Regions from separate parts of the Homo sapiens genome. Here region 2 is linked to region 1. A link means that fine-mapping ties the variant in region 1 to the plasma level of a protein whose gene starts in the linked region. Region 1 holds a variant in brackets. A gene starts in the other region. All regions are shown on their reverse strands.

Region 1 (9,990 bases):
CAGGAGGCTGAGGCAGGAGAATTGCTTGAACCTGAGGCAGACGTTGCAGTGAGCCAAGATCGCGCCACTGCACTCCAGCCTGGGCGACAGAGTGAGACTCTGTCCCAAAATAAAAATAAAAATAAAAATAAAAATAAAAAAATAAAAACGGGCCAGGCGCAGTGGCTCACACTTGTAATCCCAGCATTTTGGGAGGCCAAGGTGGGTGGATCACTTGAGGTCAGGTATTTGGGACCAGCCTGGCCAACACGGTGAAACCTCATCTCTACTAAAAAAAAATACAAACTTAATCGGGTGTGGTGGCACAGGCCTGTAATCCCAGCTACTTGGGAGGCTGAAGCAGGAGAATTGCTTGAACCCGGGAGATGGAGGTTGCAGTGAGCCGAGATCGCACCACTGCACTCCAGCCTGGGCAGCATGAGCAAAACTCCATCTCAAAAAAAAAATTAAAAACAGGAAGATGGCTGGGCCTGGTAGCTCACACCTGTAATCCCAGCACTTTGGGAGGCCAAAGCAGGTGGATTGCCTCAGGTCAGGAGTTGGAGACCAGCCTGGTCCACATGGTGAATCCCTGTCTCTACTAAAAATACAAAAATTAGCTGGGTGTGGTGGAGCACCCCTGTAATCCCAGCTACTCAGGAGGCTGAGGCAGGAGAATCGCTTGAACCCAGGAGGTGGAGGCTGCAGTGAGCTGCGATAGCACCACTGCACTCCAGTCTGAGCTACAGAGCGAGACCCCATATCAAAACAATAGAAAATAAAAACAGGAAGATTTATTCTGACACTGCAAAGGCAAAACTATACGAACCAGGAACAAAGCTTTCGTTGCCAGAGTAGGGGAAGGAGTTGACCCCAAAGTGGGGAGTAGCAAGAGAGATTCTGGGGGGGTGTGAAGGAACAGTTCCGGATTTTGACTGTGGTGGTTACATGACTCTGGTTTATCAGAATTCAGAACTGTTCACCAAAAGGAGTGGATTTTACTGTATGAAGTTTTCAAATGCAAAAAAGGAGCTGGGAGATTTCATGTGAAAAACTAGATTTCCATTTCTCTTTTTTTGTTTTTGAGACGGAGTCTCGCCCTGTCGCCCAGGCTGGAGTGCAGTGGCCTGATTTCGGCTCACTGCAACCTCTGCCTCCTGGGTTCAAGCAATTCTCCTGCCTCAGCCTCCCACGGAACTGAGACTACAGGCGCCCACCACCACGCCCGGCTAAATTTTTTTGTATTTTTAGTAGAGACGGGGTTTCACTTATGTTGGCCAGGCTGATCTTGAACTCTTGACCTCGTGATCCGCCCGCCTCGGCCTCCCAAAGTGCTGAGATTACAGGCGTGAGCCACTGTGCCTGGATAATTTTTGTATTTTTTAAGTAGGGAAGGGATCTCACCACATTGGCCAGGCTGGTCTTGAACTCCTGACCTCAAGTGATCCACCTGCCTCGGCCTCCCAAAGTGCTGGGATTACAGGCCCCATTTCTCTTTTTAAAGAGAAATGCATGGCCAGGTGCGGTGGCTCACGCCTGTAATCCCAGCACTTTGGGGGGCTGAGGCGGGAGCGGATCACTAGGTCAAGAGATAGAGACCATCCTGGCCAACATGGTGAAACCCCGTCTCTACTAAAAATACAAAAATTAACTGGACGTGGTGGCACAGCCTGTAGTCCCAGCTACTCGGGAGGCTGAGGCAGGAGAATCGCTTGAACCTGGGAGGTGGAGGTTGCAGTGAGCTGAGATCGTGCCACTGCATTGCAGCCTGGAGACAGAGCGAGACTCCATCTAAAAAAAAAAAATCAGCCCAAGCAAGGTGGTTCACGCCTGTAATCCCAACACTTTGGGAGGCCGAGTCAGGAGGATTGCTTGAACCCAGGAGTTGGCGACCAGCCTGGCCATTGTAGCAAGACCCCATCTCTACAAAAAAGAATACATTAGCTGGGCATGGTGGTGCCCACCTGTAGTCCCAGCTGCATGGGAGACCGAAGCCAGAAGATGGTGTGAGCCCAGGAGGTCCAGCTGTGATCCCACCTCTGTATTCCAGCCTGGGTGACAGAGTGAGACATGTATAAAAGGAAAAATCAGCTTCACAATTCCCCTCCTAGTTATCTACCCAAGAAACTGAAAACAGGTCCACACAAAAATATGTACGTGATCTGGGAGGCCGAGGTGGGCGGATCACGAGGTCATGAGTTCGAGACCAGCCTGGCCAGCATGGTGAAACCCTATCTCTACCAAAAATACAAAAATTAGCCAGGCGTGGTGGCAGACACCTTTAATCCCAGCTACTTGGGAGGCTGAGGCAAAACAAATGCACATGAATGACCCTAACAGCACCATTCACCATAGCCCAGAAGTGGAAACAACCCAAAAGCCCGTCAGCTGATGAGTGGAGACAAAATGTGGTCTAGCCCGTGCCATGGAATATTACTCAGCCCTAAAAAGGAATGACGTTGGGCCGGGCGCAGTGGCTCATGCCTGTAATCCCAGCACTTCGGGAGGCCGAGACGGGCAGATCATGAGGTCAGGAGATCGAGACCATCTTGGCTAACACGGTGAAACCCCATCTCTACTAAAAATACAAAAAATTAGCCGGGTGTGATGGTGGGCACCTGTAGTCCCAGCTACTCGGCAGGCTGAGGCAGGAGAATGGCATGAACCCGGGAAGTGGAGCTTGCAGTGAGCCGAGATCGCGCCACTGCACTCCAGCCTGGGCAACAGAGTGAGACTCCATCTCAAAAAAAAAAAAAAAAAAAAAAGCAATGACGTCCTGACACGGGCTACAGTGTGGATGGATCTGGAAAACATGCTGAAAGAAGCCCAGCACGAAAGGTCACACGTACGATTGCATTTATAATGAGATGCCCAGAATAGGCAAATCCATAGCAAAAGAAAGTAGTTAGTGGCTGTCCGGGGCTGGGAGTGCAGAGAGAGAGGGGATAGTGACTGCTGATGGGGTGTGGGTTTTTTTTTTTTTTTTTTTTTTTTTTGAGACAAAGTCTGGTTCTGTCACCCAGGCTGGAGTGCAGTGGCACGATCTTGGCTCACTGCAACCTCCGCCTCCCGGGTTCAATCGATTCTCTTGTCCCAGCCTCCTGAGTAGCTGGGATTACAGGCATGTGCCACCACGCCCGGCTAATTTTTGTATTTTTAATAGAGATAGAGTTTCGTCATGTTGTCCAGGCTGGTCTTGAACTCCTGGCCTCAAGTGATCTGCCCACCTTGGCCTCCTGAAGTGCTAGGATTACAGGCGTAGCCACCACGCCCGACCAAGGGTTAATTTTATGGCCTGTGAATTTTATCTCAGCTTTTAAAATATCAGAAGATCTGACTTCGTTAGAAGCTCCACCTGGCTCTTTGCTCCCAGCGTGTTGTCAACAGCATGGGGATTTGATCTGCTGATCTGCAAGTGGGGAGGTCACCAACGGAAGAACTAAAAGCAAAAACAGTTCAAAAGTTTATTCTAATAAGCGTTGGTCAGGATGTGGAGAAACTGGAACTTGTCTACAACGCTGGTGGGCACGTAAACTGGGGAAATGAATTGGCAATATCGATTAACGCTAAAAATGCGCCTAGCCGGTGCTCCACTACCTCACTCCTGTGTGTGTACCCCAAAGACATGCGACGATGCTCAGCAAAACACGAGCTAGAATGGCTGGGCGCAGTGGCTCCTGCCCATGATTTCAGCACTTTGTGGGACTGGGGTAGGAAGATTGCTTGAGCTTAGGAGTTTGAGACCAGCCTGGACAACATGGTGAAACTCCATCTCTATTAAAAATACAAAAATTAGCTGGGCGTGGTGTTACACGCCTGTAATCCCAGCTACTAGGGAGGCTGAAGCACGAGAATCGCTTGCAGCTGGCTGAGATCAGTGAGCTGAGATCAGTGGAGTGCAATGGCACAATGTTGGCTCTCTGCAACTGGAGTGCCACAGTACTCTGGCCTAGGTGGCAGAGCAAGATTATGTCTTAAAAAACGCAGGCCAGGGCCAGGCGTGGTGGCTCATACTTGTAATCCCAGCACTTTGGGAGGCTGAGGTGGGTGGATCACCTGAGGTCAGGAGTTCGAGACCAGCCTGGCGAACATGGTGAAACCCTGTCTCTACTAAAAACGCAAAAAGTAGCCAGCCACGGTGGCCGGCACCAGTAATCTCAACTACTAGGAAGACTGAGGCAGGAGAATCTCTTGAACCCAGGAGGCGGAAGTTGCAGTGAGCTGAGATTGAGCCGCTGCTCTCCAGCCTGGGCGACACAGCAAGACTCCATCTCAAAAAACAAAACAAAACAAAACAAAAAACACACACACAAAACAAACAAACCAAAAAACGCGGCCGGAAGCGGTGGGTGACACCTGTAATCCCAGCACTTTGGGGGGCTGAGGAGGGCAGATCTCGAGGTCAGGAGTTCAAGACCAGCCTGACCAACATGGTGAAACCCCCTCTCTGCTAAAAATACAAAAATTAGCAAGACATGGTGGTTCACGCCTGTAATCTCAGCACTTGGGAGGCCGAGGCAGCCGGATCACCTGAGATCAGGAGTTCGAGACCAGCCTGGCCAACATGGCGAAACTCCGTCTCTATTAAGAATACAAAAAATGGCTGGGCGCGGTGGCTCACCCCTCTAATCCCAGCACTTTGGGAGGCCGAGGTGGGGCGGATCACGAGGTCAGGAGATCGAGACCATCCTGGCTAACACAGTGAAACTCGTCTCTACTAAAAAACAAAAAAATTAGCCGGGCAGTGGTGGCGGGCGCTTGTAGTCCCAGCTACTTGGGAGGTTGAGGCAGGAGAATGGCGTGAACCCGGGAGGCGGAGCTTGCAGTGAGCCGATATCGCGCCACTGCACTCCAGCCTGGGCGACAGAGCGAGACTCCGTCTCAAAAAAAACAAAAAAACAAAAAAACACACAAAAAATTAGCTGGCATGGTGGCCCGTGCCCGTTATCCCAGTTACTCGGGAGGCTGAGGCAGGAGTATCGCTTGAACCTGGGAGGCGGAGGTTGCAGTGAGACAAGATTGCACCACTGCACTCCAGCCTGGGAGACAAATCGAGATTCGTCTTCCAAAAAAAAATAAAGACTATTTGTACATATTTGCTTAAATCTGTGTAGATTCTCCATGGTAGGAAACACTGGCTGTCTGTGAAGAGTTGAACTTAGTGGAAGGCGTTGTTTTTAGCTTGTAGCATCCTGTATATTTCGGGTTTTGTATCCTGTGAGAGTATGGCCATTATTTTAAAATAAAATATGCAAGAATATTTTAAAACTAAAAAAATTCTGGAGAGAAGCAGTAAGTGTGACAAGATGCTAGGCAGTTTTTCACCATAAACTGTTCTGTGCAAGTAATTTGTTGCTATGTGTGGGTATTGTTTTCGATAAACAATGTTTCCAAACATGCAGCCCTCAGAGATTTACCAATATGCCCTTCCTCCCACATAAACCAGTTCTCCACATCCAGCCACTAGAGGGCAGTATGTTATCATACGAAAACGCTTGGAGTCAGACGCGCTTGGATTCAAATTCCAGCCCTCCCACACAGACAACAGCTATAAACCCTGGAAAAAACGTGGAAAACAATTACCCAAAGGCAAGGCACTGGAAGGTAAACAAAAGCAGACAGAGCAACTGGAGGGAACTTGACACTCAGAAAAAAGAAAGGCGAGTTTCTTATTTGTACAGCTTTTACTTGGGGGTGAGTTCTAGTTCATACCATGACTGGCAGCTAAAACACCAGAGGGAAATCCAGTCTTCCTAGCTTGAAGAACTACAGCAAAAGGAAGGTGAGGAGATAAATCCTGGAAAAGAAAAGCTGGAGAGAGGGTACCTGGAATGGTTTCTATAAACTCTACTCAAGTATCTTTTTTTTTTTTTTTTTTTTTTTTTTTTTTGAGACGGAGTCTCCCTCTGTCGCCCAGGTTGGAGGGCAGTGGTGCAAACTCCGCCTACCGGGTTCACGCCATTCTCCTGCCTCAGCCTCCCGAGTAGCTGGGACTACAGGCCCCCAACACCACGCCCAGGCTAATTTTTTAAATATTTTTAGTAGAGACGGGGTTTCACCGTGTTAGCCAGGATGCTCTCGATCTCCTGACCTCATGATCCGCCTGCCTCGGCCTCCCAAAGTGTTGGGATTACAGGCGTGAGTCACCGCACACGGCCCAACTCTACTCAAATATCTAGCTGACCCTGAACCACACCTGGCTGCATGGGTACACTCCAAAAAGCCCAGGTAAACCTAAAAAAAAAA[AC/C]CGAACTGGCCAGGCACGGTGGCTCATGCCTGTGATCCCAGAAATTTGGGAGGTCGGGGAGGGCGGATCACCTGAGGTCGGGAGTTCGAGACCAGCCTGGCCAACATGGTGAAACCCCGTCTCTAATAAAAATACAAAAATTAGCCGGGCGTGGTGGTCCATGCCAGTAATCCCAGCTACTCGGGAGGCTGAGACAGGAGAATCACTTCAGCCCGGGAGGTGGAGGTTGCAGTGAGTCAAGATCATGCCATTGCACTCCAGCCAGGATGACAAGAGCAAGACTCCATCTCAAAAAAAAAAAAAAAAAAAAAAAAAAAAAATAGCTATCGGCCAGGCACAATGGCTCAAGCCTGTAATCCCAGCACTTTGGGAGGCTGAGGCAGGTGGATCACCTGAGGTCAGGAGTTCGATACCAGCCTGACCAACATGGAGAAACCCTGTCTCTACTAAAAATACAAAATTAGCCAGGCGTGGTGGTGCATGCCTGTAATCCCAGCTACTCAGGAGGCTGAGGCAGGAGAATCGCTTGAACCTGGGAGGTGGAGGTTGCAGTGAGCCGAGATTGTGCCATTGCACTCCAGCCTGGGCAACAAGAGCAAAACTCTGTCTCAAAAAAAAAAAAAAAAAAAAAGTAAATTTTGAATTGAATTCTATCATGCATAAAAGGGCATACATCACATGTGGAGAACTGAATGAATTTTCATAATCTGACCACCCCTGGGAAGCAGTACCTAGATCAAGAATAGGCTATTTTCCAGCCTCCCTCTCCCGATAAGAAGCCCATGAGGTCCATTCTGGTCCCTCCCCCGCAAGGGTGAACAACATCCTGAGTTCTAACCCCCAGATTAGTTTTGCCTGTTCTTGAATTTCCTTTTTAAAAATTAATTAGTAAATTAATTTTTTTAGTAAGTTAATTTTTTTTTTTGAGACAGAGTCTCGCTCTGTCTCCCAGGCTGGAGTGCAGTGGCGCGATCTCGGCTCACTACAAGCTCCGCCTCCCGGGTTCAGGCCATTCTCCTGCCTCAGCCTCCCGAGTAGCTGGGACTACAGGCGCCCGCCACCATGCCTGGCTAATTTTTTGTATTTTTTAGTAGAGGCGGGGTTTCACCGTGTTAGCCAGGATGGTCTCGATCTACTGACCTCGTGATCTGCCTGCCTCGGCCTCTGAAAGAGCTGGGATTACAGGCGTGAACCACCGTGCCCGGCCATAAACTAATTTTTAAATAGAGATATGGTCTCTATAAATGGCGTGAGCCCGGGAGGTGGAGCTTGCAGTGAGGTGAGAGTGCGCCACTGCACTCCAGCCTGGGCGACAGAGCGAGACTCCGTCTCAAAAAAAAAGAAAGAAAAAAAAAAAGAGATGCCATCTTTATAAAAGATCATCCCAGACTGGTCTTGAACTCCTGGCCTCAAGCAATCCTTGATTAATCCTTGGGATTACAGGCGTGAACCACTGCGCCCAACCCGACTCTTAAATAACTCAAAGCAGTTTATAATCCCTCCTCTGCTCATGACACTCCAGCGACTCTCATGTCACTCAGAATAAATTCTGTGTCTCTCTGGGTCTCTATCCCCATTCTCTTTGGATCTCTGTCCCCCACTCTCTGGGTCTCTGTTTCCCTCTCTCTGAGTTTCTGTCTCCCTCTCTCTGGGTCTCTGTTCCCCTCTCTCTCTCTGGGTCTCTGTTCCCCTCTCTCTCTGGGTCTCTGTTCCCCTCTCTCTCTGGGTCTCTGTCCCTCTCTCTCTGGGTCTCTGTTCCCCTCTCTCTCTGGGTCTCTGTCCCTCTCTCTCTGACTCCCCACCCCTTCTCTCTGGGTCTCTGTCCATCCCTGTCTTGTGCCACCAAACAGGGACCACCATGACCTGCCTGCAGGGGCCTGCACAGTCTGGCCACTTGCCCCATCTGCTCTCAGCTCTGACCCTCTTCCACTGGCTCATTCCCTTCCAGCCACTCTAGCCTCCTTGCTGATGCTGCCACACCAGGCCCACTCCTGCCTCAGGGCCATTTTACTTGCTCTTCTCTCTCCCTGGAATGCTCTCCCTCCAGATCTCTCCGTGGCTCCCTCCTTCACTCCATTTACCATTGAGACCTTTCCCAGCCTCTCAGTCATCAGAACATTGCCACACTGCTACACGCTTCCCCTGCTTCACAGCATCTGTTGCGCCGTGCCATATTTTAGGTCGCTGTGTCTCTTCCTTACAGAACTGGAGCTCTGAGAGGGCAGGGCTTCCTGTCTGGTTTGTGCGCTGCAGAGTCCAGGCTTTTTTTCCCTTTTTTTTTTGAGACAGAGTCTCCCTCTGTCACCCAGGCTGGAGTGCAGTGGCGCCATTTCGGCTCACGACAACCTCCACCTCCCGGGTTCAAGCGATTCTGCTTCAGCCTCCAGAGTAGCTGGGATTATAGGTGCCCATCACCAGGCCTGGTTAATTTTTGTATTTCTAGTAGAGACGGGGTTTCACCATGTTGGCCAGGCTGGTCTAGGACCCCCGACCTCGTGATCTACCCGCCTCAGCCTCCCAAATTGCTGGGCTTACAGGCGTGAGCCACCGGGCCTGGCCCAATTTTTTTTGTTTGTTTGTTTTATACTGAGGAACGCCCTCCAATCCCTCCAACACCCAGCACCCCTCCTTCAAATGCCTGGTCCCCTATTGCATGTCTCAGCCCCCAACTCCCAGTCACAGCCCCCAAACCATCTCCAGGGCCCCCTTACCCTTCATAGAGACAGGCAGACAACAGACAGACACACAAGGTCCCGGCGCTGGCTTTTATTGCCTCCTGGCAGAGAGGAGGTGTCCCAGGCCAGGCCAGGCAGGAGAGGGCTGGGGCCAGGGGAGTTTCAGTCTATGTGGTGGAGGCTCAGATTTGGAGCTGGAGGGGTTGGGGCGGTTCTTAGAGCTGAGCTTGGGGCCAAGGGTCCCTGGGTCTGGGCTGGGAGACTCAGTCAGAAATAGGTATTGCTTATCCTCTGGGACTATGACAGCCCCTCCCTGGGGTTGGGGGTGTGACAGGGACAGAAGCCGACCCAGGGGGTCCCTGAGAGCCCAGGGGCAGGAGGATGCCTGGGACTGCATCTGCCTCCTGCGGGGCCTGGACAGGGAGGGGGCCAGACCACAGCGGCCCCTCCTCCGGTCATTGTGCGGGCCTCTGAGGCTGTGGCAGGTGCGCGGTGCTCACAGCTCATCGTGGTGCCGGGTCAGGTCCTCGCCATAGTTGGTGGCCTGACTGCCCACAAACATGTTCCAATTACCCAGGATTTCCGCTTTGCTCAGCCGCCCATCCTGGAGGGAGGGTCAGGGTTCAGAGGGGACAACACGGCCCTGCTTTCAAAAGCCCTCCCTGCATCCAAGCGTGTCCCGAAGTCTCTGGGACCCTTGTTCTCTGGGCCTCTGTCCCTTTCTCTCTGAATCTGTCCCCGTCTTGGTCCCTGTCCTTCTCTCTTTGGGTCTCTGGGTCTCTGTCCCCCTCTCTTTCTGGGGCTCCGTGCCCTCTCTTTTCCTCCCTCTCTCTGTCCCTCTTTTTTTATCCCACCTAAAAGGGACCCTGAGCTCCAGGCCCAGGTCTTGCTCCTTTCTGGAGTCTGGCCCGCAATGCCCACCCGCTCCTCGCTCCTGCCGAGGCCCCGTCACTGCACCTTGTCCGTGTCGCTCTCGTGCAGCAGGTGGTTGGCTTCCACCAGGGGCTGGTCCTGGGCAGGGGGCAGCACCCAGTGGCCCACCTCACTCCCATCCAGGTGCCCATCCTTGTTCAGATCCCGGAAGTCCCG
Region 2 (9,990 bases), not on the chromosome of region 1:
CCCAAGTAGCTGGGACTACAGGTGCCCACCACCACACCCGGCTAATTTTTGTATTTTTAGTAGAGATGGGGTTTCACCATGTTAGCCAGGATTGTCTCGATCTCCTGACTTCGTGATCCGCCCACCTCAGCCTCCCAAAGTGCTGGGATTATAGGTGTGAGCCACCACACCCAGCTATTTTTTCTTTAGAGCTGGGGTCTCACTATGTTGCCCAGGCTGGCCTGGAACTCCTGGGCTCAAGTGATCCTCCCACCTCGGCCTCCCAAAGTGCTGGGATTACAGGCATGAGCCACCATACCTTGTCTGTTTTTTTTTGTTTTGTTTTGTTTTTTTGCTTTTTGTTTTGTTTTGCTTTGCTTTGAGACAGAGTCTCGCTCTGTCACCCAGCCTGGAGTGCAGTGGTACAATCTTGGCTCACTGCAACCTCTGCCTCCTGGATTCAAGCAATTCTCGTGCCTCAGCCTCCTGAGTAGCTGGGATTACAGGCGTGTGCCACTGTAACTGGCTAATTTTTCTATTTTTAGTAGAGACGGGCCAGGCAGGTCTTGAACTCCCAACCTCAGGTGATCCACCCGCCTCGGCCTCCCAAAGTGCTAAGATTACAGGTGTGAGCCACTGCGCCCAGCCTTTTTTTCAACTTTTTTTTTGGCCTCACACAGTGCTAGAATTAGGTAGGAGTTTGAGACCAGCCTGGACAACATAGCAAGACCTCATGTCTACAAAAAATAAAAATAAAATAAAATAAATTAGCCAGGCCAGGTGCAGTGGATCACACCTGTAATCATAGGACTTTGGGAGGCTGAGGCTAGACAATCACTTGAGCTCAAGAGTTCAAGACCAGCCTGCGCAACATAGTGAGACCCTGTCTGTACAAACACTAAAAATATTAGCTAGGCATGGTGGCACACGCCTGTAGTCTCAGCTACTTGGGAGGCTGAGGCAGGAGGATCGCTTGAGCCTGGGAGTTCGAGGCTGCAGTGAGCCTCGATCGTGCCACTGCACTCCAGCATGGGTGACAAAGGGAGACCCTGTCTCTTAAAAAAAGAAAAAAAAAGGTATAAAATCTTTGGATTGAGAGAAGAAATCACAGCTGACCTCAAATGTTTAAAATATGACAAATATCATAAATATTATACAAGCTAGAAAAATAACAACATTTATAGTAAAGAAGACTGATATAGCCCTGGAATACTTGCATTTACTACCTTTTTCTTAGATGTGTACTCTTTGACCATCTCTTCATATGATGATTTTGTAATATTATTTTCTATTCTTTCTCTGTCTTTCCTCTAGGATGGCTGATTAATTTTTGCTTAGAGATGGGGTCTCGCTCTGTTGCCCAGGTTGGAGTGCAGTGGTGCCATCACGGCTCCCTGCAGCCTAGACCTCTCAGGCTCAGTGATCCTCCCACCTCGGCCTCCCCAGTGTCTGAGAGACCATAGCCACATGCCACCACGCCCAGCTATTTTTTATTTTTTATTTTCTGGTAGAGACAGGGGTCTCACTTTGTTGCCCAGGCCGGTCTCAAACTCCAGGACTCAAGCAATCCTCCTGCCTTGGCTTCCCAAAGTGCTGGAATTACAGGTGTGAGCCACAGTGCCTGGCTAAGTTATTTTTTTTTGGTGGGAGTGGGACGGAGTCTCGCTCTGTTGCCAGGCTGGAGTGCAGTGGCGCGATCTCGGCTCACTGCAACCTCCGCCTCCCAAGTTCAAGTGATTCTCCTGCCTCAGCCTCCCGAGTAGCCTGGCTAAGTTTTTAAGGTTTCATCATTGTTTATAAAAATTTATTTGAGCTTTACAACTCTATTGGTAATGTTGAAAACTCTATCAAATTCCTTTTGTAACAGAGCTGTAAGATTTCAGGTCATTTCAAGTGTTGTCCTGCTGAAACTCACCTTCAAAACTGTTTAAATTATGGCACTTATTAACCAGGGCCGTGGAAGAAGCCAGGCAGGTGAGAGGTGCTGAAGCTTAAACTTCATGAACTTTGGGGTAAACCTGAACTTTGGACCCGACACAGTTAGGTGGCCCAGAAGAGGGGAGACTGAGATGTGGAAAGAGTAATGAGAAGTTCAACAATTTACGGAGAAAGGGGTGATTTGCTGCTTGTTATTTCTTACAATAGGAAAAGCTGTAACTCCAGGATTACTCAAAACAACTGTCACAATCTGTACAAGAAAAAGTAAACTTATTAGCCGGGCATGGTCCCCGCGCGGGGTCCCAGCTCCTCAGGAGGCTGAGGAAAGATTGCTCGAGCCCAGGAGGTCAAGGCTGCAGTGAGCCATGACCGTGCCACTGCACTCCAGCCTGGGCAATACAGTAAGACCCTATCTCTAAAAAAAAGAGCCACGTGCAGTGGCTCACGCCTGTAATCCCAGCACTTTGGGAGGCCAAGGCAGGTGGATCACCTTAGGTCAGGAGTTCCAGACCAGCCTGACCAACATGGAGAAACCCCGCGTCTACTAAAAATACAAAATTAGCCCGGTGTGGTGGCATATGCCTGTAATCCCAGCTACCTGGGAGGCTGAGGCGGGAGAATCACTTGAACCCAGGAGGCAGAGGTTGTGGTGAGCCGAGATCGCACCTTTGCACTCCAGCCTGGGCAACAAGAGTGAAACGCCGTCTCCAAAAATAAAATAAAATAAAATACAAAAGAAAAGAAAAAGAAAACTCCAGTAGCTGTTGGTGGATGCTATGCGCAAGTACCGACAATGCACCGTGTGATAGCAGTATATTGCTCTGGGCTGGGAACAAAGGTGACAGCCTAATATTTTGGGTAGGGAACAGCAAAGTGCTCTAATAATGAGGAAGGGAGGGCTGAGTTTGGTTTGGTCTGCAGAACAGGCATGGATTCAGGTAGTAACGTGAATGTTCACCCACGTTCTGTAATTTAGTGGCTACTGAATTTGCTTGCCTGGGAAGTGGTTCTGGGTGGTCTAAGGGTGGAGGACATGACTTCACACACACAGGATAGACCAAGGGTGGTTCCTGAGAATTGAAGTGAAAATCTCAGATGCCATCTCCACGTAAAGGGGAAATCATGGGATTTTTTTTCTACCAGGTTGTAATTCACCAGATGACATAAAACTATATTAATTTTTACCAGATTCTCTTTGAGGCCAGGAACCATGTTTTACAAATCTTGAAAACTAGCAATGTGATCACTCGGCACGTAGTAGATGCTCAGTAAAGATTTCATTTTTTCATTCTTTGACTGGCATACACTAGATGGTAGAAAATAGATTACTGCCTGGTGTGGGGTGTGGGCTGATGACCTGACATGGAATAGAATGTTTTCTCTCTTTCTTTCTTTCTTTTTTTGTAGACAGGGTCTCGCTATGTTGTTCAGGCTGCCCTCAAACTCCTGGACTGAAACGATCCTCTCATCTCAGCCTCCAAAAGTGCTGGCATTACAGGTATGAGTCACTGTGCCCCACTAAGATGAGTGTTTTCTATTGTTTAATTAATTTATGTTTTGAGACAGAGTTTCACTCTGTTGCCCAGGCTGGAGTGCAGTGGCACGATTTCAGCTCACTGCAACCTCTGCCTCCCAGGGTTCAAGCAATTCTCCTGTCTCAGCCTCCCGAGTAGCTGGGACTGCAGGCCTGCACCACCACACCTGGCTAAGTTTTGTATTTTCAGTAGAGAAGGGGTTTCACTATGTTGGCCAGGCTGGTCTCGAACTCCTGACCTCAGGTGATCCGCCTGCCTCGGCCTCCCAAAGTGCTGGGATTACAGGTGTGAGCCACTGCGCCCAGCCTATTTATTTATTTACTTATTTATTTACTTTATATATTTTTTGGAGACAGAGTGTGGCTCTGTTGCCCAGGCTGGAGTGCAGTGGTGCAATCTCTGCTCACTGCAACTTCTGCCTCCCGGGTTCAAGCGATTCTCGTGCCTCAGCCTCCCTAGTAGCTGGGACTACAGGTGTGTGCCATGATGCCCAGCTGATTTTTGTATTTTTAGTAGAGAGGGGTTTCACCATGTTGGCTAGGCTGGTCTCGAACTCTTGGGCTCAAGTGATCCACCCGCCTCGGCCTCCCAAAATGCTGAGATTACAGACCTGAGCTACTGTCCCCAGCCAGAAGACATAACTTTTAGAGGCTACAGGATCTGGGTACAGAGTGAGAGTGGCAAAAGGCAGGGCAGGGGTTTGGGAGAGGGTTGCAGAGAACCCCGAGGGAGAAGCTGAATAAGAGAAGGGGAGACTGGGCCTGCATCGGGGAGGGAGGAGGGAATTCCCAGCTCCAGCCTGGTCTGCCTGGCTCCAGTGAAGCCGGCTGTTTCCTGCCCTCGGTGACCGGCCCACCCCCCCCAACCCGGGCGCAGGACCCAGGCAGAACAGCAAGGAAGGGCAGGGGTGTGGGGAACACCTCTTGCAGCAGGAAGATAAGTAAGCCGGGACAAGAGGTTATCACAGGCCCGGCTGTCCTTTCTGGGACGTAAGGGCGCTTGGCAGCCCCCCAAGCATCCTGGACTCCAACGTCTCTCTTGCTGGGCTCCAACGTCTCTCTTGCTGGGCTCCTCAAGATTCTGTCCTCCGGCTGGGCGCGGTGGCTAACGTCTGTAATCCCAGCACTTTGGGAGGCCAAGGTGGGTGGATCACTTTAGGTCAGGAGTTCGAGACCAGCCTGGCCAACATGGCGAAACCCTGTCTCTACTAAAAATACGAAAACTAGCCGGGGTTGGTGCCCTGTGCCTGTAATCCCAGCTACTCGGGAGGCTGAGGCAGGAGAATCGCTTGAACCTGGGAGGCGGAGGTTGCAGTGAGCCCAGATCACGCCACTGCACTCCAGCCTGGGAAATAGAGGGAGACTCTGTCTCAAAAAAAAAAAAAAAATCTGTCCCCGCTAATTACTGTGGGAGTCTAAGTCCTTTCCTTCTGCCCCTTGGAGGGGCTGACTCCTGGAGCAGCACCCCCTCCAATCCATCTATCCAGTAACCCATACTGTTAAGTTCCCTGAAGTAGAAGGGGGTTGGTGGGAGGAGCACGGCTGTGCTGGACCCTCCCCGCTAACTGATGGGAGGGTGAGGGGAGTTGGCAGTGAGAGGAAGGGCCCCTCCCAGCCATCCCGAGGGCCCCCAGGAGCCAGACAGGAAACAGCTCAGGAAAGACAGCAGCCGCAGCCGCAGCCCCAGCCTCAGGGGTCATGGCTGCGGGCGGCGGGGAAGCCCCCCCAAAACACGAGAGTGAGAGTGAGAAGGGCGATTTGGAGATCTAGCCGGACCCCTCACCCTCTCGGACACACCCACCTTTTTTTTTTTTTTTTTTTTTTTTGAGATTTCGTCTCACTCTGTAGCCCAGGCTGGAGTGCAGTGGCGCGATCTCAGCTCCCAGCTCACTGCAACCTCCGCCTCCTAGGTCCCGGTTCAAGCAATTCTCCTGCCTCAGCCTCCCGAGTAGCTAGGATTACAGGCGCGCGCCACCATGCCCAGCTAATTTTTGTATTTTTAGTAGAGACGGGGTTTCATCATGTTGGCCAGGCTGGTCTTGAACTCCTGACCTCAAATGATCCGCCTGCCTCTGCCTCCCAAAATGCTGGGACTACAGGCGTGAGCCACCGCGCCCGCCACACCCACCTTTTCTTTACCGTTGTTTCCTCGATTTTTCTCTACTCCCTAGCGCAGCTTAGTGCGCGCCTCCTCTGGACATTTTTCAGGGCTTGGTTGCGCGCACAGTAGGTCCCCAACACTGAATGTTTATGGGGTGACTGTGTGAACGTTCGCTGCAAGGCTATCCAAACTGGGATTGCTCCTTGAGGCCCCCTGGGCGGCCGTCAATTCTCCAAAGCTTCTACTCCCTTTTCCTTCCTTTTCCCCCAAAACGCAGTCCCTGCGCCCACTAGAGGGTGGTGGGCGCATCCAAGAGCGGCATCTAGAGTCCGCAGCAAGGTCAGAGCGGGCTTTGTGTGCGCGGTGAACATTTACGTGCACGCCTGGGCGGCCCTCCGTGTTGCTGCTGGGTGTGTGTTTTCTCTGCTCCCTGGTGCCAGCCGGGTTCGGGCCTGTCCCGGGGGTCCCTGGGCCCCAGCCCCGACATGCTCGGTCCTGGACAGCGCGCACCGCCACGGCGCACATCTGGGCGGTCCCGGGGTTCCTCACCCGCCGCCCCTCCCCCTTCTCCAAACTTTCTCTCAACTTCCCGACCTGCTCCACTCGGTGCCCCTCTCCGCTTCCCTCATGAATTATTCAGTAGCGTGAGCTCCAATCAGCGCGCCCGGGGCTCACTCGCGGAGCCCCCGCGTTGGGAGAGCTGCCCCCGCCCCCCGCGCGCCCCTCCCTCCCGGGCCCGGCGCCGCCCGGCCCAGTTCCAGCGCAGCTCAGCCCCTGCCCGGCCCGGCCCGCCCGGCTCCGCGCCGCAGTCTCCCTCCCTCCCGCTCCGTCCCCGCTCGGGCTCCCACCATCCCCGCCCGCGAGGAGAGCACTCGGCCCGGCGGCGCGAGCAGAGCCACTCCAGGGAGGGGGGGAGACCGCGAGCGGCCGGCTCAGCCCCCGCCACCCGGGGCGGGACCCCGAGGCCCCGGAGGGACCCCAACTCCAGCCACGTCTTGCTGCGCGCCCGCCCGGCGCGGCCACTGCCAGCACGCTCCGGGCCCGCCGCCCGCGCGCGCGGCACAGACGCGGGGCCACACTTGGCGCCGCCGCCCGGTGCCCCGCACGCTCGCATGGGCCCGCGCTGAGGGCCCCGACGAGGAGTCCCGCGCGGAGTATCGGCGTCCACCCGCCCAGGGAGAGTCAGACCTGGGGGGGCGAGGGCCCCCCAAACTCAGTTCGGATCCTACCCGAGTGAGGCGGCGCCATGGAGCTCCGGGTGCTGCTCTGCTGGGCTTCGTTGGCCGCAGCTTTGGAAGGTGAGTTTCCTTGCGGGGGGGGGCGCACCCCGTCACTCCTGGGACCTCCCCCCCAACATCTGGGCCTCGGAGTGGAGGGGCCGGCCTCTGACTACCCCTACCCGGGCACTGCAGTCCCAAACACTTCGGACCGATAGTGCTGGAACGGGAGGGGGGCGGGGAAGAGGCGCCCGACGGGTAGTGGAGTTTTCTTTTGTTTGGGAAAGAGATGGAGTCTGGCTACGACCCGGGACATTCCCCTGCCCGGGCTCCCCGAACTCTCACTGCTGATTACATACGCCCCTGGCTGCCTTTCCTTTCCTCCCTACCCCACTATTCAAAACTATCTGCAAAGTTTCTGTCCCAGTCCCACCTCCCGCCGTACATGAGGGAAGGTTTCTGGAGAAGCAACAGCAGACAAGGCACAACTTTTCGTGCTAGGCCCTAAAACGACCCCCAGCGCCAATTCCTTAGCGATCACACCTTGATCCTCCAGTTCCACACTCCTGCAACAGGATGGCCTCCTTTGCATTCACACAGCAAACCCCCAAACCGCTCTCCCGCCCACTGCTCCTGCCCCTGGTATAGGGTGGCTCCTTGGTTTCTACAGGCTGCACCCCATCCCTTTAAATGCGGTCTAGACCCCGGCCCCAGGTGAGTCCCGGGCTTCCCTTGAGACCTAGGAGCGGGTAGAAACTGACCTACACAGCCCCCAGGTAGAAACTGACCTACACAGCCCCCACATCGCCCTAACTAACCCAGTCTATCTCCCACCTCCTGGTCTCTCCAAGCATTTCTTTGGCCATGGATCGCTGTCCCTCCTGGTCCCCTAAAGGGGGAGCCAAGAGCCCTAGAAACTCTCCTGTGTCCCTAATGTCCTTTCAGTGAGCTGCCAACACCCCCCTTTCTCTGTCTGGTATGAAAGTGGTTATGGGGCGGTAGGCTATGAGGGACTCCCAAAGGGAAGGATTCAGCGGCGTTAGAAAAACCCTCTCCCCCTGGCTGGGCAGGACTGCCCTGGGCTGGGGATCAAAGGCTAGGTGTGGGGTTGGGAGTGAGGGGAGGCTTGCCCAGCTCAGAGAACGGAGAAGGGGGAACAAAAACCATGAACGAGGGGAAGAGGAAGGCCAAAGGGGTGGAAAAACCACGAGGACGAGGTGTGGTGAGAAGGAAAGACGCAAAGAGGAAATGGTGATTGTGACACCTATTACCTGAGTGTTTCCAAGCACCAGGCCTGTGCTGAGCGCCTTACAAATATTAATTTCACCCATCCAGCAACGCTAAGGGTGGTGCTATTATTGCCCCCATTTTTCAGATGAGGAGGCTGGGGCTTAGTTAAGGTTAAGTAGTTTATCCAAGGCCCTGTGCCGCGAGGAACAGCGAGAAGTGGAGGCCGAAAGCGAAGGAGAGATAGTGACTGTCAGAAAGAGAAACGGAGGTGGACAGAGAGTGGAGGAGAGATAGGTGAGAGACATGCGAACTGACAGATCAAAGCGTGGCTGCAGCTGAGCTGGGACGCAGAAAGGGAGCCTGCGCTTGCTCTGGGCTGCGGACAGCCCGAGGCAGAGACAGTGTGTAAATTGGAGACAGGAAAACACTATCCCGGCTGGAACAATGGAGGGTGGAGACGGCAGCCTCTATCCACCCCCTTCCCAGAACCCGGGCATCCTGTCCCCAGTGAGCAGGGCTGTCTCTTGCCACCCATGGGGACCTTGCGCCTCTCACCTCAGGCTGGCTGGCTTCCCATCTGACCCCTAGCTGGAGGACATCATTTGGTCCCCAGGAAGAGGCTGCCTCACCCACCCTCTTTCTCTTCTCTCCTGCAGCTCCCATGGGGTGGGAGCCAGGTGTTCTGGCTCCCCTCTCCACCCTTCCCAGCGCCCAATGCCCCCCACATTGCCGGCCCCCGAGGGGATTCCTGTACCCTCCCTCCTCCACTCTCCACTGCCAGGGGCTGTGCAGTTTTTCCTAATCCCCCCCCTTCCTCCAGTGCCTGTCCCCTCCCCCGATGATCCGAGCCAAGCCAGGTGTGTTCACCCCTCCCATTCATACCGCCCCCCAGAATCTCCTCCCCTCTGCCTTCCCATAACCAAATCCAGATGTGAGGCCTCGGCGGGAGCCTGGGAACCCTAGCATCCCGACCTCCAGTGCTTCCTGATCAGGGCACTCGTGGGGAGGGAGGTACTGGGATGGGGGCCAGGGCTATGCCCCAGGCACGGAGCGCTCCCTTCAAGGAGGGAAGGACGGGGTGTTTGGTCTGAAAGCAGAGAGGGGTCTTGGACAGGGAATGAAATTGTGGGGTAGAGAGGCTGATTCTGGGACTTAGGGGAGGAAACGTGGAGGCTGAGACAAGAGGTTCCCCTCCCACACCAGCAGCCTCTGCTCGTGGGGGTCAGGACCAGGGCGCAGCTCTCATTTTAACCCTTTCTGAGCTGCCGCCCCTTCTCCCCGTACATTTTGATCTCCCTCCCTCCTCCAGGGAGGCCTAGATCTGGGGTATCCCAAGGGAGCCCCATGCCTACCAGATGTTGGGGGTGGGGTTGGCACTTAGCAGAAGAGGCCAGAAATCAGGCGGGTGCAGAGGGCAGGGCTTGCTCCCCTCTTGGCCCCCCAACTCCTCTAGCTCAGAGCTAAGAGGATCCACCTGCCTCGGTTCCCAGGGATCTGGTCTTCCTGACCTCCCTCCCCCACCCCAGGCACTGACTCTGTCTCTCTGTCTGTCTCAGAGACCCTGCTGAACACAAAATTGGAAACTGCTGATCTGAAGTGGGTGACATTCCCTCAGGTGGACGGGCAGGTGAGAGCTGCACCCAGGAGCTGGAGCTCTGGAGGGAAACTGAGGGAGGAGAGGGCGCCTGTGCCGCCTGCTTTCTGTGTGCCACTCCTCTCCCCTGTCCCCCCAGATGACAGCAGCCCCAGCAGTGTCGTCTGAGCCCTTCTCAGAGGCGCCCTCCTCGCAGTACCAGCAGCCCCCCTTTCTCAGTCCCTCTCACTTTATAGGATTCACCCCATGCAGCCCTCTCCCTGGCGGCTCCCCAGCCCCCTTGCTGACCTCCTTCTCTGCACAGTGGGAGGAACTGAGCGGCCTGGATGAGGAACAGCACAGCGTGCGCACCTACGAAGTGTGTGACGTGCAGCGTGCCCCGGGCCAGGCCCACTGG

Which allele goes with the higher level. Alleles are on the strand shown, and positions count from the first base shown. The strength of an association depends on the size of the effect and on how common the allele is.
For the plasma level of the protein whose gene starts at base 6,306 in region 2, C is the high allele of the variant in region 1 and AC is the other (weak association).

The links. A credible set is the group of variants that fine-mapping cannot tell apart. PIP is the posterior inclusion probability: the model's chance that the variant is causal. Protein levels are from antibody-based Olink assays in UK Biobank. Linkage for the fine-mapping came from a reference panel and not from the study's own genotypes, which makes the PIPs less certain.
Region 2: EPHB4 starts here. The variant in region 1 is the best candidate, but not a certain one, in a credible set for the plasma level of the EPHB4 protein (UK Biobank, PIP 0.51).

What each region holds. Positions count from the first base shown.
Region 1 is chr19:49,542,621-49,552,610 of GRCh38, reverse strand. It overlaps RCN3 (reticulocalbin 3), which reads right to left. Exons shown (of 7, transcript NM_020650.3): 6 at 9,859-9,990; 7 at 8,978-9,505. The coding sequence ends at 9,398. Among named protein-coding and RNA genes, the nearest start is that of RCN3, 20 kb to the right of the region's middle. The variant AC/C (reference allele first, on the strand shown) is at 6,226.
Region 2 is chr7:100,823,839-100,833,828 of GRCh38, reverse strand. It overlaps EPHB4 (EPH receptor B4), which reads left to right and starts at 6,306. Exons shown (of 17, transcript NM_004444.5): 1 at 6,306-6,850; 2 at 9,556-9,626; 3 at 9,898-9,990. The coding sequence starts at 6,799. It also overlaps a transcript of SLC12A9 not described here. RefSeq lists enhancers at 3,915-4,710, 5,507-6,302.